Regions from separate parts of the Homo sapiens genome. Here region 1 is linked to region 2. The links come from fine-mapping of genetic effects on gene expression. A gene starts in region 2. The other region holds a variant in brackets. All regions are shown on one strand. Distances are between the middles of the regions. Region 1 overlaps ZNF318 (zinc finger protein 318). Region 2 holds the start of ZNF318 (zinc finger protein 318).

What was found. PIP is the estimated chance that this variant, and not a neighbour inherited with it, causes the effect. A credible set is the group of variants that fine-mapping cannot tell apart.
Region 1: its variant is the best candidate, but not a certain one, in a credible set for the expression of ZNF318 in Th1 cells (Schmiedel 2018, PIP 0.75).

What each region holds. Positions count from the first base shown.
Region 1 is chr6:43,343,488-43,347,880 of GRCh38, reverse strand. All of the region lies in intron 6 of ZNF318 (zinc finger protein 318), which reads left to right. Among named protein-coding and RNA genes, the nearest start is that of ZNF318, 24 kb to the left of the region's middle. The variant TTTG/G (reference allele first, on the strand shown) is at 1,697.
Region 2 is chr6:43,367,852-43,372,244 of GRCh38, reverse strand. It overlaps ZNF318 (zinc finger protein 318), which reads left to right and starts at 2,598. Exons shown (of 10, transcript NM_014345.3): 1 at 2,598-3,278. The coding sequence starts at 2,880. It overlaps LOC124901227 (atherin-like), which reads right to left and starts at 2,881. Exons shown (of 2, transcript XM_047419609.1): 1 at 2,858-2,881; 2 at 904-2,822. The coding sequence starts at 2,881. The coding sequence ends at 2,124. RefSeq lists silencers at 2,345-2,444, 2,635-2,834, 2,925-3,114, 3,125-3,194.

The sequences.
Region 1 (4,393 bases), 24 kb after region 2:
CACTTCTTTTCCTCGTAGTACATTGGATGCTCCTGCTTAGTATCCTTTGCTGTCTCTCTTGCATAATCTTTAAATTTTTGAGTTTCTCGGGGCTCAGTCCTTGCCAGAATTTGCTCTTTCTTCCTAGGCCATTTCATCCAGTCCTATGCTAAAATGCCATGTGACAATTGCCAGTTTTATGTTCTAGTCAAATGAGTCTTCTGAGTGTCTAACAACGTAACTCACCATTTCCACTTCATTATCTCATAGGCACTTGAAATTGAGCATGTCCTAAACTAAATTAATGGTTGTGCTCAACCTCCTTCCAACTTTTTCTTTCTCCATTGTTATGCATTCTCAATGAATGGCATACTGTCCGACAGTTTTCATGCCAACAACTTAAAAGTCACTCTCAGTGCTCTGCTTTCCCTAACTGCTCCATATGCAATCAATTACAAATTCTGTCAGGTCCCTCTCCAAAGTAAATCTCGATTCCATGCACCTTATCATCTCCATTGACATTCAAGTCCAAGCCACATCAGTTTTTGCTTATGTTGCTGTGTTAATTAACTCTTTTTGCACATATAGCCAGTGATCATGATACTTAATCCCTTGCCTACCTCCTCAACCTCATTTCATGCCTCTTTCCTTCTTGCTGACTGTAGTTTCATTACTAACCTTTTCATTCCTCAAATGTATCATCTCCTCTCGTGACCTCACATTTTCTGTTCCCTTTCTTTACCATGCAAATCGAACTCTTTCCTTATCTACTCTTCTAACTCCAATTCATCCTTTAGATTGGATCTTAAATTACTTCCCTGACATCCTTCTCTGATTCCCTAGACTGTTAAATTTGCCTGATATACACTCCCATAATATCTTGTAATTTTCCTTCTTAACATTTATGACAGATCTGATTTTATAATTAAATGTGTTCCCCTAATTTGATTTTAAGGTTCAAAAGTTACAGGGACTTTATATGTGTCATTGTTCAATATGATTCCCAATATATAGCCCAGGGCCCAGCACATAGTAATGAATACTGCTGAAGAAACATTATATTACATCTTACGCTGCGTCACCTCAAAATGCAATTTTCCGGATGTGCAATATCTGGTATTACACCTCTCTGGTTTTGCATAAATAATCCTATTAGCCTGGAATAATCTTTCTCCCAACCCCACTCACCCATTAAAGCCCAATTTGGATACCACCTCTTCCATGAAGAATTTCCAGAATTCCACCCAGATCTAGTCAGCCTTCTTTAGCACTCTGTAATTTGTTTCTTTGTAAAATTTATTTCGTTGTCTTATTTAAAGACTCTTCTTACGTCTGTCTCCACTAAATGAGAGCTGCTTTTTTTTTTTTTTTTTTTTTGGTTAAAGATGGGGTCTTGCTATATTGCCCAGGCTGGTCTTTTGAGACAGAGTTCTTGCTCTGTCACCCAGACTGGAGTGCAGTGGCGCAATCTCGGCTCATTGCAACCTCCGCCTCCCAGGTTCAAGCAATTCTTCTGCCTCAGCCTGCCGAGTAGCTGAGATTACAGGCACGTGCCACCACGCCCGGCTAATTTTTATATTTTTAGTAGAGACATGGTTTCACCATATTGGCCAGGCTGGTCTCAAACTCCTGACCTCGTGATCCGGCCTCCCAAAGGGCTAGGATTACAGGCGTGAACCACCCTGCCCAGCATTTTTTTTTTTTTTTTTTTTTTTTT[TTTG/G]AAACAGAGTCTTATTCTGTGGCGTGTGGCGTGATCTTCGCTCACTGCAACCTCTGTCTTCTGGGCAATTCTCCTACCTCAGCCTCCTGAGTAGCTGGAGTTACAGGCGTGTGCCACCACACCCAGCTAATTTTTGTATTTTTAGTAGAGACGGTTTCACCATGTTGGCCAGGCTGGTCTCGAACTCCTGACCTCAGGTAATCCACCTGCCCCCGCCTCCCAAAGTGCTGGGATTACAGGCATGAGCCACTGCGCCCGTCCCCAGGCTGGTGTTGAACTCCTAGGCTCAAGTGATGATCCTCCCGCCTCAGCCTCCCAAAGTGCTAGTATTACAGATGTGAGCCACCCCACCTGGCCCGAGAGGATAAAAGAGGAATCTTTTTTATCTTTGTGTTTCCCATTGCATACAATATGTCTAGCACATAGTACATCCTCAGTTAATATTGAGAGGTAGGAAAGAGAATATATTCTGTGTTATCACCCAAGCTCTATTTTTTTCCATGTCTTCCTAGGAGAGTTTTCTTTCTCAACCAGGTAGGCCTAGTCTTTTATACCTGGGTCTTCAGTCTAGGTAGGGCCTTTGATGGGAGAAGAATTTAAAAGCTCTGGTCCTTTGTAATTGACTTATACATTGGATTTCTATTCATGTACGAACCCAATGATAATCTGTCATCTTGATTTGGGTGCGTCTTCATGGTCTCTGAAACTAACGGATATGTTACAATTCAGTTTTCATCTCAGCAGTAAGGAATATTATGTCCACAGCCTTTCTTTCCTACCTGTCCTTGGTATTTCTTCTTTCTTTACCTCTCTTTAAAATGTATAGTTGGTTTGAGATTTTCTTTCCCTTTCTGTTCATTTCAGAAAAGCACATACAAACTTGTAATTTCATCTACCTAGAGACAACTGTTATTATTACTTTTTTTTTTTTTTTTTGAGACAGGGTCTCACTCTGTCACCTAAGTTGAGTGCAGTGACACAGTCATGGCTCACTGCAGCCTCCAACTCTCAGGTCCAAGCATTCCTCCCACTTCAGGCTCCCCAGTAGCTGGGACTACAGGTGCTCACCACCACCACACTTGGCTAATTTTTGTATTTTTGTAGAGTTGAGGTTTCGCCATGTTTCCAAGGCTGGTCCCGAACTCCTAAGCTCAAGTAATCTGCCCACCTCAGCCTCCCAAAGTGCTGGCATTACAGGCATGAGCCACTGGGCCCAGCCGAGACCACTGTTATTAATACCTTGGTGTATAATATTATTAATACCTTGGTGTATGTTATTCCAAATACATACACCAAGGTATTATTATATATTCCAAATACATTAATTTATTATTAATACCTTGGTGTATGTTATTCCAAATACATACACCAAAGTATTAATTCTGTCCATCAATTCACTTAACAAATATGTATTGGTCACCAATAAAGTGTCAGGAACTGGTCTAGATATGGGAAGTATCACACTGAACAGTATAGACAAGGTTCATATTCTCATTAAATAGCAGAAGATGATAAATAAATAAGTCCATGTTAGGTAATGAGAAGTGCCTAAAAAAAGAAAACAGGATAAGGAGTATAGAGTGGTTAGAGAAAGTATTTTGGATAAAGTGATATTCAACGCTGTATGCCGATTTACATATCTTTGTTGATTATTCAAGTGTATTTTATTAGTTTTCTCAGTATATCATGAACATCTTTCCATGTCAGTAAATACACTTCTATAATACCATTTTTAACAACCTTATTTTTTGTTGTTTTGGTTGCATGGTTAAGCAAAATTTATTTAACCAATCAAATCACCTGTTGTTTGACATGATAATTTCCATAGGATAAATGTCAAGGAGTGAATTGCTGGGTTAAAGGGTATACAGTATTTTGAGGTATGTAATGTATTCCTAGATTATCTTCTAGAAGATGGTGCCAGTTAATACTCCCACCAGGAGTGTATGAACTCTCCCATCCCCTGCCTGTCTGGTGTGATTTCTTTAGTGATTCTTGAATAGGACTCAGGTAGGGAAAGAGTATCTTTGAAGCCCCAATTGTTTCCCTTTCTGTATCCTACCTTTTTCCCTGCGTGAGCCAATATTCCAGGTACCCAGCTCTTCATCTTGTGTACTATAGAACCCCATTCATAGTGAGCCTCTGAGTTGCAAAAATTATCTTTTTTTCCTGTGCCTTACTCCTGAACATTAACCAAAATTCTCATTTCCTGAGTGCCTTGTTCCAGCTTGGTAATAAATTAATTCATATTAAAGTATTTGCTGTTGATAACTTTAATATTAAGAAGTTGATATATTTTTAAAAAGGATACATGTTAACGGTGTTAAAATTTTTTTTTTTTTTTTTTTTTTTTTGAGACAGGGTCTCACTTGTTGCTGAGGCTGGAGTGCAGTGGCACAATCTTATCTTACTGCAACCTCCGCCTCCTGGGTTCAAGTGATTCTCGTGCCTCAACCTCCCGAGTAGCTGGGAATACAGGTGCACACCACCATGCCCGGGTAATTTTTGTATTTTTAGTAGAGATGGGGTTTCACCATGTTGGCCAGGCCTGTCTCGAACTCCTGGCCTCAAGTGATCTGCCCACCTCGACCTCCCAAAGTGATGGGATTACAGGTGTGAGCCACTGCACCTGGCCTCTAAAGTTGTTAAATTCTAAAAGTGATATTTTAGGCAGTTAGGAATGTTTTTCCTAGA
Region 2 (4,393 bases):
GGGTGCCTATAGTCCCAGCTACTCGGGAGGCTGAGGCAGGAGAATGGCGTGAGCCCAGGAAGCGAAGCTTGCAGTGAGCGGAGATCGAGCCACTGCACTCCAGCCTGGGCGACTGAGCGAGACTCTGTCTCAAAAAAAAAAAAAAAAAAAAAAAAAAAAACAAAACAAAATAAAAGGGATCCGTCCCATGAGAGATAACCAGAGAGGAAAGGGACTCCTGCCACGGGAGTGAGTTTTACATGGGGTAAACCTCCTCCAGAAGGCCAAAGACTTGGGGGAGGGGAGTCATAGACAGTGAACCAGAGGAGGACCACTGCCAGCAAGAGAGTTCTAAAAAAGCCCACAAAGGTGCATAAGAGAGAAAAGCCAACATTTGTGATTCCTCCTTGTCCATAGGGAACCGATTTTGGAAGGTAACAGCATCCTGCACTAACCAGGAAAGTCTGTGTTCTTTCCCTTCAATCCCTTCTCCTCCTGGGAGGAGGGGGTCAGAAATAGCAGCTAGCCAGTGGGAGAGGAGGAGCAAACTTTGAGGAGCAAAGGCAGGGATGTGGAGAAACCTACCATACCACTTTTAATATAGCAAGCTTCAAGTCTGAAGCAGGTAAAAGCAGGGGTAGGGGAGAACCTTTAGCCTGAATAAAGTTTAAAGTTTTGTTCTGTACTATATATTTTCTACTGCAATATGACTACTGTCATGACTGAAAAATACTTGAAAAGTGAAAGGATCTGCAAGAGATTTCATGCAGGATACAGAACTATGCATAGAGCAAGTGTGAAGGGGAAGCAGAAGAGTTTTCTGATTATACACCGTGTCTCCCCCTGTCTTGAAACACCCCAGCTCCTTTGATAAAAATATTCAGTATTAGAAATGGGTTGAGGAGTAAAAGTTGATACAGAATATAACAAACATGATTTAAAATTTATTGACTCCAAGTATCTATACACACTGATTTACATTTTTTTCACATTTATTAAGTCCCACCAAAAGTATGGGTAACCAAAATCCATATATACTCTAATAAAGACAGGGCATACACCTCTGGCATATTTTTATTATTTTTTTCATTAAAATGTTATTGGTTTCTTATTTTATATAAATTATATAAAATGTGAAGCTGGGTAAAAGTAGTCAACTAGTAAAAATTTTATACATTTTTACTGAGTATATGCCATTATAAGAACGTATGGAAATGGATATATATATATATGGATGTATTTTTTGAGAGAGGGTCTCACTCTGTCACCCAGGCTGGAGTGCAGTGGCATGATCACAGCTCACCGCAGCCTCAACCTCCCGAGTAGCTGGGGTACAGGAACGTGCCACCACACTCGGCAAATTTTTTTTTTTTTTTTTTAGAAATGGAGGTCCTTCTACGTTGCCCAGGCTGGTCTCGAACTCTCAGGCTCAAGCAATCCTCCTGCCCCGGCCTCCCAAAATGGTGGGATTATAGGCGTGACCCTTTGCGCCTGGCCCACTTTTGTATTTAGGATGCAGGGCCCTGAGATTGGCATCTAGGAAAATTCTGGACTTAGGCCAGGGGAGGGGGCATGCCTGGATCTCTTACAAAAACTTGCCACGCCTCCAGTTGGTCATGATGTGGGCCCCTGGTAATGAAGGACCTCCACCATGACCACAAGTACTTTAGTCAGAAAACAGCTCGAAAACGTGTGAAGAGAGTCCACCAAACAGGCTTCGTGTGAGCAACAAGGCTGTTTATCTTACCTGGGTGCAGGCGGGTTGAGTCCGAAAAAGGAGTCAGCAGAGGGTGGTGGAATTATCATTAGTTCTTATAGGTTTGGGATAGGTGTACAAAGTACATTCTTAAGGGCGGGGGAGAATATTACAAAGCACCTACTTAAGGGCAAGGGGGAGAATATATCCTGTCAGTTAGGGTGGGGCAGGAACAAATCACAATGGTGGAATGTCATCAGTTAAGGCTATTTTCACTTCTTTTGTGGCTCTTCAGTTGCCTCAGGCCATCTGGATGTATACGTGCAGGTCATAGGGGATATGATGGCTTAGCTTGGGCTCAGAGGCCTGACAACGTCTATTTTGGGTTTGATTCTGGCCCACCACCTCCACCTCGTACTTTCCTATCCTCAATTTCAACCTCTAGAAATTAGGCAAACTGGAAAGTAAACTGATGCGGGTCGTGTTGCTTCAGCTGGGGACAGGATTTCGGTGGGCGCTCCTGCCGGGGTCCGTAACCTCCCACACAGCTAACGTTTACAGGCCCGTTTATATTATCACGAATGGTTTTCAACCATTTCGTGTCCATCCCTAAATTAAGAGGCTTGAGGGGCGGCACGAAAGAGCGAAGACACCTCCGCACGGTCTCCAAACCCCTAAGTCCAGAGGCCTGGAGCATCCCCGGAAAACCAGATCCCTCTCCAGAGAAGCCCTTCCTTCCGCTCCGCCCACCCCGCGCGGAGGCCACAGGGGTCACGTGGCGGCCGCGGGAGGGGGAAGTGGGCGGCTCTGCGGCCGCCATCTTGAGGATTCGGAGGCGGGGCGTGCAGAGCTCAGGGCGCGCGCTTCGCTTCCCCTCCCCTCGCCCAGCCTCGCGCCGGCGTCTGTGCTCCTCCCCACTTTTCTTGGTTCCTGCGGCCGCTCCCTGAGTGGAGGAGCGGGGAACCCCGGAGGCGGGGGGGGGTGTGTCGGACGCGTGCTCGCGCCCTCCAACCGCCAGCCGCGGGGGCGCGCTCGGCCGGGCCCCCGGGGCGACGCGGGGCCGAGGGGAGGGGGCTGCTCCCGCGGCTGAGGCGGCGCGCAGCGGCCGAGGTGGCGGCGGCTGCAGCTGCGGCGGCGCGCTCCGAGCCTGCGTCTAGGGCGCCCCCGGGTCAGAGCTGTCGCCGTGGCCGCCGCTGCAAGAACCATGTACCGCAGCAGCGCTCGCTCCTCCGTCTCTTCCCACCGGCCTAAAGACGACGGCGGGGGCGGCCCGCGCAGCGGCCGCAGCTCTGGCTCCTCCTCAGGCCCGGCTCGCCGCAGCTCACCGCCGCCTCCGCCCTCCGGCTCCTCGTCGCGGACCCCGGCTCGCCGACCCCGCTCGCCCTCAGGGCACCGCGGCCGCCGGGCCTCGCCGTCCCCGCCACGGGGTCGTCGCGTCTCCCCGTCCCCGCCTCGGGCCCGTCGCGGCTCCCCGTCGCCACCGCGGGGCCGACGACTCTTCCCGCCGGGCCCGGCCGGCTTCAGAGGCAGCAGCCGGGGGGAGTCCCGCGCCGACTATGCCCGGGACGGCCGCGGAGACCATCCAGGCGACAGCGGCAGCCGGGTAATCCCACCCCTCGTCCAGGACTCCCTCCATCCCCCAGTCCCCTCCCCCGGAATTCCCGTTTCCAGAAACGCCCGGGGCCTCCAGACCAGGGTCCTAAGCGCGAAGCCTCCGGCCAACTCCCTCGGGGATGCCGAGCCTGGAGGCTTCTGTCAGACCCGGGAGCGTTGACACAATAACGGACTCGGGAGCGCACGGGCGTCTCGTCGGGAGTGCGCGCTCCGTTCCTTAGGAATAGGCTGTTTCTCTCATGCCGGGTGAGGTGTGGAAAGTTTGCCAAGGCGAGGGGCATTTCGTCCAAACCGTGTGTCTTGGTACTTTTTGTAGAGTTGATGTGTCCTCGGGGTTCCGTACTTTTCATCCCCTTACACCTGAGCTGCCTTCCTGGATCTTAGGGGAAAAAGCCGAAATGTCCGTTTTTGTGGCGAGTTAGGGACGCTTGAACCCTACCAGGCTTTACGTCTAGAGTGTAAACTGTTAGCTTAAATGAATTGGAGCTGCTGCTTCGGAATGAAGTGTGCAGGACCACAGTCACTGCCATAGCCACTACCTCTTATCGAGTTCTATGTCAGGAATTATGCCTAGCCTTTCACTTTGCACATTATTTTAACCCTCACAAGTCTTTGAAGTGAGGCAGTTAATACTATTCCTTGTTGTACAGCCGAGGAACCAACCCAGAGAGGTTCAAGTAACTCGACTGAGGTGACACGGCTAAGTGGTGGAGCTGTGCTTCAACTCAGATCCGCCTGGTTCCCCAAATCCATGATTTGAACCTCTATGTTTCACTGCTAGAGGAACGGAGCATGAGTTTAAGTTTAGTTTTAGAAATAATGTTGACCTTTAACCATAACCACCACCCCAAGAGATCCTCTAGGTAGAGTCTGGTTTTTGGGAATTTGTTTTATTTTTAGTTCATCAATCTTTTTATTATTATTATTATTTGAGAAAGAGTCTCACTCTGTTCCCCAGGCTGGAGTGCAATGGCATGATCTCAGCTCACTGTAACCTCCGCCTCCGGGGTTCAATCAATCCTCCCGCCTCAGCCTCCCAAGTAGCTGGGATTATAGGCGCCTGCCATCATGCCCGGCCTCTTTTTTTAAACTTAGTAACAAAGT